Regions from separate parts of the Homo sapiens genome. Here region 2 is linked to region 1. Evidence: fine-mapped expression QTL. Tissue or cell type: ovary. Region 1 holds a variant in brackets; the other region holds the start of a gene. All regions are shown on one strand. Distances are from middle to middle.

Region 1 (8,189 bases):
ATGGGTAGCTTAAAGTTTCTGTTTCCATTACAAATGATATATTTTTAAAATTACATTTTTAATTGTTATTGCTATATAAAACTGGTGTTTGATTTTTATATATTTATCTTATAATTGTCTTATTAACCACCTTGTTGAATTATTTTACAGGTTTGCCCACAGATTATCTTAAATTTTCCATGTAGATAACCATATTGTCTGAATAATGACCGGTTTCTTTCTTTCTCATTTCTTTCTATTTCTTCATGTTTTTATTTCTTACTATGCTGTCTCAGACTTCCAGTGCGTTGTTTATCACAGGCAATGAAAAAGACATCCTGGGCCAGGCGCAGTGGCTCACGCCTGTAATCCCAGCACTTTGGGAGGCCGAGGCGGGCAGATCACGAGGTCAGGAGATTGAGACCATCCTGGCTAACACGGTGAAACCCCGTCTCTACTAAAAATACAAAAAATTAGCCGGGCGTGGTGGCGGGCGCCTGTAGTCCCCGCTACTCAGGAGGCTGAGGCAGGAGAATGGCGCAAACCTGGGAGGCGGAGCTTGCAGTGAGCCGAAATCGCGCCACTGCAGTCCAGCCTGGGCGACAGAGCGAGACTCTGTCTCAAAAAAGAAATAAAATAAAATAAAAAAAAGAAAAAGACATCTTGGTTTTGTTGCTTAAAGGAGGAATTACTAGTATTGCACCCTTTATTGAGATGTTTGCTGTGATTAAAAATTCTTTTTTAATTAACAGCTCTATTGAGGTATAATTCACATGCTTAAAATTTACCTTTTTAAAGTGAGTTCTGTGGGTTATTTTTATATTATATATTTATATATAATATATAGTATATATATTATATATTTTATATAAATATTTTATATAAATATATATACTATATATAGTATATAACTATATATAATATATTAATATATAATGTTTTATATATTTTTATATATTTTATATAGTATATAATATATTTTTATATATTTTATATAGTATATAATATATTTTTATATATTTTATATAGTATATAATATATTTTTATATATTTTATATAGTATATAATATATTTTTATATATTTTATATAGTATATAATATATTTTTATATATTTTATATAGTATATAATATATTTTTATATATTTTATATAGTATATAATATATTATATATTAATATATTTATTAATACATAAACATGCAATATATTTATATATAATTATATTTATAAATTTATATAAATTTATATAAATTTATTTATAAATAAAATTATAATTTTATAAAATTATTTATAAATTTATATAAATTTATAAATATAAATATAATATAAATATATTATATATAAATATATTATATATAAATATATATTTTTATATTTACATTATATATAAAATATATTTATATATTAATATATTAATACATATATGAATATATATTTTATATAAATATATTATATAAAATATATTTATATAAAATATATAAATATATAATATATACTATATTATATATAAATATATAATATATAAAATATATAATATAGAAATAACCCACAGAACTCACTTTAAAAAGGTAAATTGTAAGCATGTGAATTATAGCTCAATAAAGCTGTTAATTTTAATTCAATTCAATTCAGTTAATTAAATTAAAAAATTAATTAGAGCTGTTAAATAATATATATATTATATTTTTATTATATTATATATTTTATAGTTATTTTTATTGGATTAAGGAAATTTGCCCTAATTCTAGTTGGCTAAGACATTCATCATTATGATTATCAATATTTTTAGGAATTTTTACCAAAGTAGTATACCTATAGAATATAAAGAGTCAGTTCTGTTGAGAAAAGCATTCCTCTGACCCACTCCTCAATCCCAATTCTCACTTTGGAGTGCACTTTTATCTCTTGTAGTGGTTTCTTCTGATATTTAACCACATTTAAAAAAATAACGTGGGTTCTGCTTCTTTGGAGTTTTCAATTTTAGATGTTGTCTGTTGACTTTCTGTTAAGTATAATGATGATTTAGCTCCTTTAGACACGCACACACTCACACACACTCTTCTCTCTCTGTCACACACACACACACACGCTCACTCATGCGCTCTCTCTTCTTCCTTTGCTTCCTGCTTTTCTGCCCTTCTTTCTTCTCTCTCTTCACTCTCTATTCTGCCAGTATAGTTATATTGATATTCAGCGTGGATATCATCACGTGTATGTATTATTATAGCCCATGATAGTAATGCATGTAGCTTACTTGATTATATTTTTATACAGCTTTATGTATGTTTCCTAAGGAACCATAATTAACTTTTTATTTATTTTTCCATTGCTTAGTTTTCTATTTTTCTACCCCCCCCAACCCAGCTGCCAATGTGTAGGTAAGCTAACTGGAATTGAGCTCGGAGTACTCTAATAATTGAATATGTAGGATTTCATTTAGCCCTTCTGTTTTTAGTACAGCGCCTCACCTTTAGTAGTTTATATTTTCTATATTTTATCAGAGTAAATTGCCAGTGTTCTGCCAGTGTTGGAGAAGGATATTAAGCTTTGATATAAGGTGTTGCTGAGGGGACTTCATTTTTCAAAAAGAATAATTTGATATTTGTATTTCATTGCAGGGCTGAATATTTTTCCAAGTTCATGTTGTCTTTCTTGTTTGTTCTTTGTTGGTTTGTTTTTTAAGTCTTTCTACTTATTTGTATTCTGTAATGTTTTGTTCAGTGAAGGCTGATTTTTACTCTTATAGATTTGTATTGTTTCATGATATATCTGAATATTAAAATGTATCTTTCTTATTTATCCTATTTCCCCATTTTATTTTCATTGAACACATTTTATTGTCAGACATCAGAGTTGTCACCAATATCTTTTATTGCTTCAGTATTCAGAATTTTCTCTTTTACAATGTGGGGAACATACTCTTCTGTTTTCTTATAATTTTGTTTTAATGTCCACACTTTCATCCATATTAAAACTTATGAGCCATGTAAAGACCAAAGAACCAGTTAACATACATTTTGTTATTTAGCATGTATTGTTTCCTTAAGTCATTTAGTTTTGCTTGTGATGTAGTCATATTATTCTCAGCATCAGAATTACTTTCTGGAAATAACTCATGGATTTAAGGCAACATATCAACTCTTTAAAGCCTTTTGGAGAAGCCATTTGCTACATTTTTATTTAATTCCTTACATCTGAAAGGCACCAAATAATACCCTGATTGAATCTTCTAAATACCTAACTTATTATTAAAGAGTCTTTGACTCTGAGGAGAATTTTGCTAATATGGCAATCTAAAATATATTGTTAGCATTGTGCTGTTAATAATTGTCTTTGTTTGTATCACTATAAATACCTGAGGCTGGGTAACTTACAAAGAAAGGAGGTTTATTTGGTTCACAGTTCTGCAGCTTGTACGAAGCATGGCTCCAGCATCTAATTTTGAGGACCTTAGCCTGCTTCCACTGATGGCAAAAGGTGAAGGGGAGCTGGTTTGTACAGATCATATGGCAAGAGAAGAAGCGAGAGAGAGAAGGGAGGGAGGTGTCAGGCTCTTTCTAACAA[C/T]CAGCTCTCGTGGGAACTAACAGAGCACTAACTCACCCCCTCTCTACTTAGGGAGGGCGTTAATCTATTCATGAGGTATCTACCCCCATGGTCCCAAACCTCCTGATATGCCCCACTTCCATTACTGGGGATGAAATTTCAATATCAGATTTGGAGAAGTCAGACTATCAAACTATAGCAATTCTGTTCACCTAAAATTTCAATGCATGTTTTGTTGGGTTTCATTGTATTTTTGAGAAGTTTCTTTTTCCAATTCCCTCCCAACCCCTCTATACTTAATATGGTAATTTCTTATAGGGACATTTTTCTGCTGTTCTTCAAAAAGAGGAAAAAATCTCACCAATTTATGGTAAAGAGGAGGCAAGAGAAGTACCTGTTATTAGTGCATCAACTCAAATAATGCTTAAAGGACTTTTTATGGTACTTGACTATCTTTTTAGGCAAAATAGCAGGTAAGTGAAGATAACTAGTATGTATTTTCCTTTTAAAAATAGCCTAATTTGGATGCTAGCATGTGTTTAATACATACCTATTTTGGGTGAGTAAATAGGAGAATTGAAAACAAGTGTTATAGATATTATTATATATTTGCTCTTATTGACACAGACTTAGAGGAATTGAAATTAGTCTGATGCTTTTTTGAGACAGGGACTTCTCTGTCACCCAGGCTGAAGTGCAGTTGCATGATCACAGCTCACTGCAACTTTGACCTCCTGGGCTTAAGCAATCCTCCCACCTGTTTCCTGAGTAGCTGGGATTACAGGTGTGCAACACCCACACCCAGCTAATTTTTTAATTTTTATTTTTTTTGTAGAGATGAGATCTCACTATGTTGATCAGGATGGTCTTGAACTCCTGGCCTCAAGTGATCCTCCCACCTCAGCCTCCCAAAGTGCTAGGATTGTAAGTGTGAGCCCATGCCTGGCCAAAATTAGTCTTTTATATTAATGAATATTGAAATCATTAAATAAATATATTTAATTAATTCATATTAAATTATCTTCTATTGCTAAAGTTTTCTTATGTTCCTACAGTGTCAGAAAGTCCCTTTTTTATTGTATGAACTGTGGAAAATGAAAAACAACCAATCCCTCTCATCCTGTAACTTAAATTATAGTAGTACCTAGTTCTGGTATTTTTTTTTTATTGTGGTAAAATATACATAAAATACACCATTTTAACCATTTTACGTATACAACTCAGTGCCATTAAGTACAGTATATTTGCAATGTTGTACATTGTACTCATTTCCAGAGATTTCCAGAAATTTTTTATTATTCCAAATAGGAATTCTGTACCCATGAAATAATAACCCCTAGAGTCTTTCCCCTCATCACCTGCTAACCTGTATTCTATTTTCATCTTATGAAGTCCTTTCTAGGTATTTCACATAAGAGCGATCATACAATGTTTGTCTTTTTGTGTCTGGCTTATTTCAATTCATTTGGCACAGTGTTTTCAGAGTTCATTTATGTAGTAGCATATATCAGAATTTCATTCCTTTCTATGGCTGAATAATACTCCATTGTATGTATATACCACAATTTGTTAATTTATTCTTATGTTAATGGACATTTGGGTTGTTTTCATCTTTTGCCTATTGTAAACAATGCTACTATGAACGTTGGTGTACAAATATCTGAGTTCTGCTTTCAGTTCTTCTGGGTGTATATAAGTACCTAGCAGTGGAATTGCAGAATCATATGGTAATGCTGCATTTAACTTTTTGAGGACTCACCATACTGTTTCTCACAGCAACTGCATTATTTTCCATTCTCATTATCAATGCACAAGGGTTCCAATTTCTACACATCCTTGCCAACAGTTTATGTAGCAGCATATATCAGAATTGTTTTTGCTGACACTCGTTATTTTATTTTTTGTATAATAGCCATCCTAATAGGTATCAAGTGATATCATCTGGTTTTTATTTGTATTTCCTAATGACTAGAGAAGTTGAGAATCTTTTCATGTGCTTATTGGCCAATTGTATGTCTTTTTTTGGAGAAATATCTATTGAAGTCTTTTGCCCACTTTTGAATTATTGGGTTTTTTTGTTGTTGTTGTTGAGCTGTAGTTATTTAGATATTCTGGATGTCAGTCCTGTAAGAGATATATACTTTACAAATATTTTCTCTCATTCTGTGGGTTGTTTTTTCATTTATTCATAGTGTCCTTTGATGCAGAAAAGGTTTTTAATCTTGTTGAAGTCCAATTTATCTTTCTCTTTTCTTGTTGTTGCCTGTACTTTTAGTGTCACATCCAGTAAATCATGGCCAAATCTGATATGAAGATTTCCCCTATGTTTTCTTTTCCTTTTTTTTTTTTTTTTTCTGAGACGGGAGTCTCGCTCTGTCACCCAGGTTGGAGTGCAGTGGCGCGATCTCGGCTCACTGCAAGCTCAGCCTCCCGGGTTCATGCCATTCTCCTGCCTCAGCCTCCCGAGTAGCTGGGACTACAGGCGCCCGCCACTAAGCCCGGCTAATTTTTTGTATTTTCTAGTAGAGACGGGGTTTCACCGTGTTAGCCAGAATGGTCTCGATCTCCTGACCTCGTGATCCGCCCACCTCGGCCTCCCAAAGTGCTGGGATTACAGGCGTGAGCCATCGCACCCGGTCTCCCCTTTGTTTTAAGAGTTTTACAGTTTTTGGCTCCCAGTATTTTTATAAGATTCTCTCCACAGTTGTTAAGTTCCCAACTTTAATTTTGAGATCTAATCTCTCTAGGAGTGAAATGAATAAGGAAATACTATAGCGAAGACATGGTAGAGAATATCACATTTTACTTTTTTTTTTTTTTTTGAGATGGAGTCTTGCTCCGTCACCCAGGCTACAGTGCAGTGGCGCTATCTCAGCTCACTGCAACCTCCACCTCCCGGGTTCAAGTGATTCTCCTGCCTCAGCCTCCTGAGTAGCTGGGGTTACAGGCGACTGCCACCACACCTGGCTAATTTTTGTATTTTTAGTAGAGACGGGGTTTCACCATGTTGGCCAGGCTGGTCTCGAACTCCTGACCTCGTGATCCACCTGCCTCGGCCTCCCAAAGTGCTGGGATTACAGGTGTGAACCACCGCGCCTGGCCACATTTTATTATTTTTAAGCTTAACCATTTTCTAGATTCTTATTGAAAGCAGTTATACACTGGATGGGATCACAGATATCATCTGGTTCAGCACCTTCATTAAAAGTAGATGAAGGCTGAGACTCAGGTTTCAAAGGAATGTAAGAATTTTATAACTTGTTGCTAATACTTTAAAAACTTTCAGTAAAAATTATCCTTCTATTTTCTCATTTAATAAAAAAGTATAACCCACCTTTTAGTCTCTTTAACCATAATACTGTTTTCTATTTTGTAACTCATCATGTAGTAGAGCATGCAGAGAGCTCTGGACTGGGAGTTAGGAGGCCTGGATTTTAATTCTGCTTCTGCCATGACATATGTAATGTTTGAAAATGAGGTTAGGAAGTAGCTGATAAAAGATAGATGGTTAGATGATTTCTAATATTCCCTCTGAGAATCAGTTGATTCTATGATTAATGGCTTTATTAATATCAGAATTACTGAATTTAATTAATGGTAAGGAGAATGTTATTTTTGAATGGGAAGGTACCAGCTCTTTCAAATGAGTTTTAATGTAATCAGTTTTTATATTGTATGTAGCTGGGTCATAGGTTTTAAAAGTTTTGCCACTTAATTAGCACTTTCTTTGCATCTAGATTTGCAGATGATTATAAAATTGCGATTCAACAGACTTACTCCTGGACAAATCAGATTGATATTTCAGACAAAAATGGGTTGTTGGTTCTACCAAAAAATAAGAAACGTTCACGACAGAAAACTGCAGTTCATGTGCTAAACTTTTGGTGCTTAAATCCAGCTGTGGTAAGCTCATCATGTAAATGGAAATTTTGTCTTCTTGCTCAGTACCAGCATTTTAATAAATGTGGTTGACTCTTTTAAAGATAGTTGTTTGTTGTTGTTGTTGTTGTTGTTTTGAGGCAGGGTCTTGCTCTTCACCCAGGCTGGAGTGCAGTGGTGCAATCTCAGCTCACTGTAGCCTTGACCTTCCAGGCTCAAGCGATCCTCCCACCTTAGCTTCCCGAGTAGCTGGGACTATAGGCATGTGTCACCATGCCCGGCTAATTTTTGTATTTTTTGTAGAGACGGGGTTTCACCATATTGCCCAGGCTGGTCTCAGACTCCTAGACTCAAGCGATCTTCCTGCTTCAGCCTCCCAAAGTGCTGGGATTACAGGTGTGAGCCACTTTGCCCAGCCTCTTCTAAAGATAATTTTATTTATCTAATGTTGTTTTCTTTTAGGCCTTTTCAGATATTAATGGCAAAGTTCAGACCATTGTTTTGACATCTGGTACATTATCACCAATGAAATCCTTTTCGTCAGAACTTGGTGTTACATTTACTATCCAGCTGGAGGCTAATCATATCATTAAAAATTCACAGGTTAGTTGTTGTTTTTTTTTTTGGAAGGCCTTCAGTGTTTCTACTTCAATATAACTATGTAAACAAGTTAGAAGATACCTGAAGTGCCAGCAAGTAAATCTTGGTAGGAAATTCAACATTCCAGTTTTACAATAAAAGAAAATCTGTCAGCTACTTAATGATGTGTCAACAGAAGGAAATAATCCA
Region 2 (8,189 bases), 78 kb before region 1:
TACCTAATGCTCAGAGGGGGGAAATATGTATCAAATTAAATGAAGGTAGAGCAATAAAACCCACTGGATTAAAGAGCTCTTGGTTTGTCATCAGGATTATAATTCATATCTTACTTTGAGAAGATCTTTGAGTAAGAAAATGCAGTGTTTGAACCTGAGGAAAAGTTAAAGTGTAGAAAATATTGTCTTGCCGAAGGATTTTGCAGTCCTCTGTCAGTAACTTCCATTGATTAGGCAGACATATTCAGGTAAACCCTAATCATTAAAAAAAAATTATCAATGTAGAAAGTAATTCCCTTTTTTCTCTCTGAGATATACCTCAATCACACACTTCCCCACCCCCACTTGAAACAGACCTCTTCACTTGTGTTTTTTTTTTTTTTTTCCTGAGGTGGAGTCTTCCCCTGTTGCCCAGGCTGGAGTGCAGTGGGATGATCTTGGCTCACTGCAACTTCTGCCACCTGGGTTCAAGGGATTCTCGTGCCTCAACCTCCTGAGTAGCTGGGACTGCAGGCACGCGCCACCTGTATTTTTGTATTTTTAGTAAAGACGGGGGTTTGCCATGTTGCCCAGACTGGTTTTGAACTCCTGGCCTCAGGTGATCTGCCCACCTTGGCCTCCCAAAGTGCTGGGATTACAGGTGTGAGCCACCGCACCTGGCCAGACCGCTTCACTTGTAAAAGAAATTAGGCTAATAAGAAGGTGTAGTTTTTGAGAAATGAAATTTAACTTTAGCCTTTTCACTAGTAAATAGTCACATCTCATTTTCTTCCTTTGTAAAATGGGGTTACTACTGGCCCTACCTCATATTCTATGAGAATGAGTTTGTAGCTGTTTCAAATCATGAAGTGCATAGTATCACATGTGATAGAATATTTATAACTTTTTATTAGATGCTTAATGTTCAATTAAGTAATTTTGATGTGAAAAATAAAAGTAATAAAAGTATCTTAAAAATAGCATAAGAATTTTCATATTTTTAAACAAGGCAGTTTTGTAGTCCCTTAAGATTAAATACAACTGCTCCTTTTTTTTTTAAACTGAGGCCTTGCGATATTTTGTGTGAATAGATATGCCCTAGGAGTTCAGAAAAAGTTAAAAGTATGTTTTCTAATTAAATGCAGTGCACATTCCTGGATCAATATTCAAAGACTGGTCATAACCTGCTGTGTTAAAATAATCACATATGCTCTTTTTCATCAGATTTGTTGATGATGTAAATAAAATGTGTAAATATATTAGTAAATGTTAATATTCATGTATTTTAAGTTAAGGTTATAAAATTTGTCACAATGTGTTTTTTTATTCAAGTGAAAACAGATGTGTGCAGCTATTTTGAATATTGGTTTATAAACATTCATATTCTTTATCAAACGAACCTGTAGTTTTTGTGTTTCATTCCACTAGAGTTAACCTGAAGGGAACGGTTCAAGGGACTGTATTCGAGGTCTGTATGGCTCCAGGGCCTACGTGTATCCCTTTCTGTTATGCCACATACATTAAATGGCAATGCAAGGTGAGAGCCAGTTGAAACTCTTAGTAATTTAGGAGAGGAAAATGAGAGTAGTTATACTAGAGCAGTTACTCAAAAGAGTTGATTTTTTTTTTTTTTGAGACGGAGTCTCGCTCTGTCTCCCAGGCTGGAGTGCAGTGGCGCCATCTCGGCTCACTGCAAGCTCCGCCTCCTGGGTTCACGCCATTCTCCTGCCTCAGTCTCCCGAGTAGCTGGGACTACAGGCGCCCGCCACCACGCCCGGCTAATTTTTTGTATTTTTAGTAGAGACGGGGTTTCACCGTGTTAGCCAGGATGGTCTTGGTCTCCTGACCTGGTGATCCGCCTGCCTCGGCCTCCCAAAGTGCTGGGATTACAGGCGTGAGCCACTGCGCCCGGCCAAGAGTTGATGTTTTAAAAATTATAAAAGAGAAATGACAATTTGAAGGTATTTTTAAGGATTTATTTTTAAACATTATCCTTCCTTTCATTGTCTTAACAGTAAATTACTTCATCTTTGCTCATTCATATGTATTTTCACATTACTGAATCCCTAACACCCAGTTTGGGGTTTGCTTTGCCTTTTTTCACTTAACCTTATATGGGATTTTTTCTTGCAAGTTTAATTTTTATAAGTTTATTGGCTTCATAATGTATTGAATTCATCTGTCATAACCACCTCCATATTACTAGACTGGGAAGTTCATAATTTTTTTCAGTATTACCAATAGATATTATTGTCAATTGCGGTATCACATTTTCTTTCGTTTAGATTACGTCTTTAGGATAAATATCTGGAGCTCAGATTACTAGGTCAAAGGGTAGAGTTTATTTTTATGACTACAAGTTTTGTCATTTTTGGTAAGATATATCACAATTGACAATGAGGCAAACAAATCAACTAGCCCCCTCCTGCTCTTTCTTCCCAGCAAACTCCTTCCCCAAACTAGTTACTTGAATTTGAGAAACAGTATGAGGTTTTGCCTTTTGGAGACATTATTATTTGAGCCAAGTTTAGGTTATACAGATTTTTTAAAAAAATAACATGATTTGGCAAGATCATGATGAACCTCCTTTTCTTTGAGTAAATTAAAGTACTACTGGCAAATAATAAACTGGTCTTAGGAGGGATGGAAGGCGGATAAGCCTTAATGGAAGTAGAAGTGATCTGATACTGGAGACCCTGAGAGCTTGTCTCTGGCTTATTTTAGCATCCGGGAAAGCCTTGAATATTATGAAAGATAGATTGTAGCCCGATGTCACAGAGCCTTCTTACTTAAGTTTGGCTCAGCAGTCTGGCAATTCCCGCCTGAGTCTTCGCTATCCTGGCTACTGCAAAGCTGGGTAATTTAAATTGAGTGGCACTGATAAATGCTCAAAGAACTTGGCAAAGCTTAAAGATACTTCCTTTCCGCTGGTCTACGGACGTGAAGAATGAGACTTCCAGTTTCCAAGGAATTTGCTGCATAGACTCTATCGCCGGTTTCAAAAGTCAAACTGAGACGACTTTCTACTTTAAACAAACACTAGGGATTTGCTGGAGTGGCGACAACCTTCCGCCGCGTACCTTGAGCCCTTGTTTTTTTTTTTTTTTTTCGGAGACTTCCATTGGATGCCGAAGTTCTCGCCCCCTCACCTCGCACCGGGACTGGTTGATTCCTGGCCTTGGCGGGTGATTGGTCGAGCTCGCTGGGCTATTGGGCGCTGGGAGTCGAGGGGGCGGGAGGCGGGAATTCGTCTCGGGTTGTGTGGTTGAGGGGTCTGGTGGGTCGAGGAAAGGTAACGGCGGCCCCAGTCCTGCACACAAGGCCGGGGAAGTAGCAGCACCCCCAGGAAGAGGGAGGAGGAAGGGCTCGTGCCCTTTCTTCTCTTCCAGGGCTCCGCTTTATTTGCTCTCAGAAGTCGGTTTCCTTTCCTTTTCTTCAGTGAATCGGAGCTCAGAGCGTTGCTTCGGTTTCCCTCCAGACAGGCAAGTCGGAGGGAAGTCCACGGAAAGGGCTTGAGTTCTTCTGCACAGCCTGCGGGCCCATGGGTGGTGACTGGATCACCAGGGTCTCGGGGATCTCAACTGGCTGGGGGAGGAGGGAGATACGGGGCAGAAAACCTGAGGAGGGAGCCTATCCTTACCTCCTTTGAGCGCAGGCCTGTTCTTAGCCCGGGCGCTGCGTTAATTCTTGGCGGGAGGCAGAGGGGTGTGTTTATCCTTTATGCAATGTTTGGGGGAAGCTACCCCATTTTGACACTATTGTTGCCACAGCCGGGGTACAGGACGGGCTGATTTCTAGATTATATCTGAGTAACTAGGCCAGCGTTGAGTTGTTGATTCATATTAAGAGGTTAGATTCCACCATACCTCATTCTCAGAGCTTTACAGATAGAATCGCAAAATGTTAGAGCTGGAAAATACCCTAGAATAATGGTTCTTCTTTTGGAGCACACAAGCAGTGGTGAATGTTATTATTGGCTTCATAATCTATTGAATTGCTATTTTAACCATCTCTTCGTCCCCAGGTTGAATTTACAATTTTTTCCCACGACTGCAAATAATTCCTTATTTAATAACAGTGCATGTAATTTCCCCCGCTATTTTGATTTCCTTGAGATATATTTACGGGAAGAGAAATCTATGGACTTTTTCTTCAGAAAAATGCAATCATGTACAGAAACTTATGCTTGCAATTTCAAGAGGTCATTGTCTCTGAATTACATCCGTGGATCCTAGGTTAAGAAAAGTGGTTTAGAAGAGGTGAGGATTAAAGTGATCCTCATCTGTATCAGATCCTGGGTTAGGTACATTCTGCCCTGGCTAATTTTCATAAAAACCCTGTCAGGTAAGTAGTAGTATTTCAATTCCATATATGGAGAAACAAGCTCTGAGAAGTTAAGTGATTCACACAGTGGAATTCAAACTTAGGATTGCCTTACTCCAAAGCCCATCCTGTTTCTATAATACTCTACTGATCTTCAAATAACATTTTTGAGTGCCTACTATGTGCCAAGGCATTCTCTTTCTTATAACAGCCTTTAAATTAAATTAGGGGTTATCACAGGTAAGGATCTTAGACTAGAGAAGTAAAAAGATATGTCAAAGATAACATACCTGAGTCAAAGATAACATACCAGGCAGTATACCAAAACCTGGTATAGAACCTATGCTTCCTGACTTCTGGTCAACAGCTTTTTTCTTCTAACTGGAGGACTGCAGAAAGGGGTAACACAAAGGGGAAGAACTGGAGAAAGAGTGATGCTACGGAGTTGTAGAGAGAGAGGCCTCAGGAACTTATTTGTTTCTGTAGGTTGATTACATCTGATCTAACTGTTACAAGAGCTCATGTTTAATCTGGTATGTACTTTATCATATTTGCACATTATTTCACTTAATCATTACCACAATCCTATGGGGTACATGCAGTCACTGTGGCTTAGAGAAGGTAACTAACTTTCCCGAAGTCACACAACTAATACCTGGCAGAGTGAAGGATACAAATCTAGATTTGTTAGACTCTAAGACATGCTCTTGACCGCTGTGATTTATAAGACTAGGAAATTATTTTGTTTCCATTTGTTTTGTTTATACTTTTATTAATTCCAGTTTCTGTTTCCAGATTTCTCCCTTAGTTTTGGTTCTCTGGTTTTCTTTGTAAGGCGTGTCTCAATATTTGACATTTTCATTTCTGTTGTAGTTAGGAATCTGAAATAAACAGGAAAGCACTATGTCTTCAATGTGGTCTGAATATACAATTGGTGGGGTGAAGATTTACTTTCCTTATAAAGCTTACCCGTCACAGCTTGCTATGATGAATTCTGTAAGTATTTTTCAGCAGTTAAGTTTTTATTAAGATATAGATACTTATGACCCATAAAGTACATTGAGTATTTGACTGCATTCATATTCTCAGTAAATGGAGAATATTTTCTGGGTTCACTTGGAAGAATATCTAACCTCTGGGAAACTACTGATTGCAGCTAAACTGTATATATCTGTGGTTAAGGCAAAGAAGAACATTCTGAAAAATGTTCTCAGCTCATTTGGAATTTCTATACTTTTAATGAAAAACTGCTATACTTTTAAGTAAAAACAGAGTATTTACTATCTTTTACACAGAATACTATTTTTCTCACCATTGTTTTGTTTGGATCATGTAGAAAATTAATATACAAATTTGAGTAAACCAGCTTTCCAGTTTTGTTACAGCTATTTTGCCATATGTACTTCATATCTTATTTACTGGTAACAAGATTATTAGTATCCTGAATTTGTTCTTTTCCTTTCCTAGCCATGTTTTTATACTTTTATTACATATATATGTATCCATAAACAATATAGAATATTATTTTACATATTTGAAACTGTGCATTGATGTGATACGGTACCTTACTTTTTATGCAGAACTTGAGTTTTTTAACTTAGCATTATTTTTAATGTATAGCCCTGTTGATTCTTAATCCATTTTAATTGTTGTATAAATTCCATTGGATGAATATACCAGAATTTATCTGTCCATTTTCTTATTGGTAGACATTTAGGTTGTTTACATTCTTTTGCAGTTACAAACAATGCTGCTGTGAACTTCCTTTTTTCTTTTTGTTTTTGAGACAGCGTCTCACTCTGTCGCCCAGATTGGAGTGCAGTGGCGCGATCTTGGCTCACTGCAACCCCTGCCTCCCAGGCTGAAGCTATTCTCCTGCCTCAGCCTCCCCAGTAGCTGGGATTACAGGGATGCGCCACCACGCCCAGCTAATTTTTGGATTTTTAGTAGAGACGGGTTTTCACCGTGTTGGCCAGGCTGGTCTCGAACTCCTGACCTCAAATGATCCACCTGCCTTGGCCTCCCAAAGTGATGGGATTACAAGCGTGGCTGCTGCTGTGAACTTTCTTATGCATGTTTCCTTGTGTTCATGTGGGAAAGGTTTTGGGTGTACACATAGAACTGGACTTGCTGGAGCTGGGCATCTTCACTTTATAAGAAATTGTTTATTTCTCTACCAAGTAGTTGTAACAATTTGTACTCTCACTAGCAGTATCCTTCATTAAGTTTTCATCAAATATATTGATAGGTAGTAATGTATTCTGGTTTTACAGAAATCATTGATGCTTGCATAATTCTGGCACAGATTCCTCTTTTCATTTCTTCTCTTGTGCTTGATATTTTAGTAAGATAATCTTAGGGAGAGGTGTAAAGGAATACAGTTTGGATTTAACTAAATATGAGTTCCTTCTGCTATTGTTGTGTTCCCTGGAGTGCAATCTCACTTTTCCTTGCTGTTCTATTTAAACTTCAGATGGAGAGAGACCTTTATAAAGTTAATATGTTTATTATTTTCATTGGTTTCTGTGTTCATAGATTCTCAGAGGATTAAACAGCAAGCAACATTGTTTGTTGGAGAGTCCCACAGGAAGTGGAAAAAGCTTAGCCTTACTTTGTTCTGCTTTAGCATGGCAACAATCTCTTAGTGGTAAGTAGTTGCTTGATATCTTCAGGTTACTTACTGGGATCTGAGAAAATATAATACAGTATTCTTTATCCAGACTGGTTCAGCCATGCTGTCGCTAACTTAAATATTTGTTTAAAGATGTTTCTTTGAAATAAGTTATAAATCTTCCAAAAGAGTTTCAATATAGCAAAATATGTTTAATTAATGCTAAAATAGTATTGAACATAATTTAGTCTTTTGATGAGTCGGAAAGTACATAAAGACTTGGCAGCCTGGGCAGCATGGTGATACCCCATCTCTACAAAAATTGACAATCAATTAGCCAGGCATGGTGATGTACACTTGTAGTCCCAGCTACTTGGGAGACTGAGGTGGTAGGATCGCTTGAGCCCAGGAGGTCGAGGTTGCAGAGAGCTGTGATTGTGCACTCCAGCCTGGGTGAAAGAAAACAAACAAACAAAGTTTTGGATGCTTAGAGTTATTATAAAAATAATTAGATGATAATTTGTATGTAAAAGATGCAAGAGATGGGCTGTCATGATGCTGTAACACATACTAATTGCTTTTTTTGGGGGGGGAAATCCTTTAATATATTTGCTTACCTGTTCCTTTCTCATAACATCAGCACATGGAATATATAAAAAAGAATACATTCTAGTTGATCTTTCTACTTGTTTAAATGCCAGATAAACAGAAATTTAGTATAATATTGTTTGTATGAATTTATATTACTTCCCACTACTTTTCCTTTTTTTTTTTTTTTTTTTGAGTGGCGTCACCTGGGATGGAGCATAGTGATGTGATCATAGCTCACTGTAACCTCAAACTCCCAGGCTCAAGTGATTCTCCTGCTTCAGCCTCTTAAATAGTTGGGATTATAGGCATGAGCCACCAGGCCAAACTATTTTTACTTTGTTTGCTAACAAATGCCTATTAATATTTACTTCTATGAAAGACTATATAAACTACATAATGAATCAGAAATATAATATTGGATACATTTTAGTTACATTAGATGGCTTTAACCTAAAGTATTAGGAGAATTGAGGTTAAACATGGTATGTGTATGTATGTATGTATGTGTATATAGGTATATAGATACATTTTTAAAATGAAATGTTTGTTACTAATAAGAGTATATTAAGGCTGGGCACAGTGGCGCACGCCTGTAATCCCAGCACTTTGGGAGGCCAAGGCAGGTGGATCACCTGAGGTTGGAAGTTTGAGACCAGCCAGACCAACGTGGAGAAACCCCGTCTCT

Direction of the effects. Alleles are on the strand shown, and positions count from the first base shown. SD is a standard deviation of normalised expression in the study named.
In carriers of allele T in region 1, the expression in ovary of the gene that starts at base 3,217 in region 2 tends to be higher than with C alone (moderate effect, 0.52 SD a copy in GTEx).

What was found. PIP is the estimated chance that this variant, and not a neighbour inherited with it, causes the effect.
Region 2: it holds the start of BRIP1, and the variant in region 1 is fine-mapped to the expression of BRIP1 in ovary (GTEx, PIP above 0.99). The same link has a PIP of 0.9 or more in esophagus mucosa and unexposed skin.

What each region holds. Positions count from the first base shown.
Region 1 is chr17:61,780,075-61,788,263 of GRCh38, reverse strand. BRIP1 (BRCA1 interacting DNA helicase 1) reads left to right here. Exons shown (of 20, transcript NM_032043.3): 11 at 3,840-3,994; 12 at 7,259-7,424; 13 at 7,863-8,003. Among named protein-coding and RNA genes, the nearest start is that of BRIP1, 79 kb to the left of the region's middle. RefSeq lists an enhancer at 4,019-4,118. The variant C/T (reference allele first, on the strand shown) is at 3,543.
Region 2 is chr17:61,858,556-61,866,744 of GRCh38, reverse strand. BRIP1 (BRCA1 interacting DNA helicase 1) reads left to right here and starts at 3,217. Exons shown (of 20, transcript NM_032043.3): 1 at 3,217-3,461; 2 at 5,176-5,298; 3 at 6,838-6,949. The coding sequence starts at 5,206. It overlaps INTS2 (integrator complex subunit 2), which reads left to right. Exons shown (of 25, transcript NM_001351695.2): 25 at 1-1,378.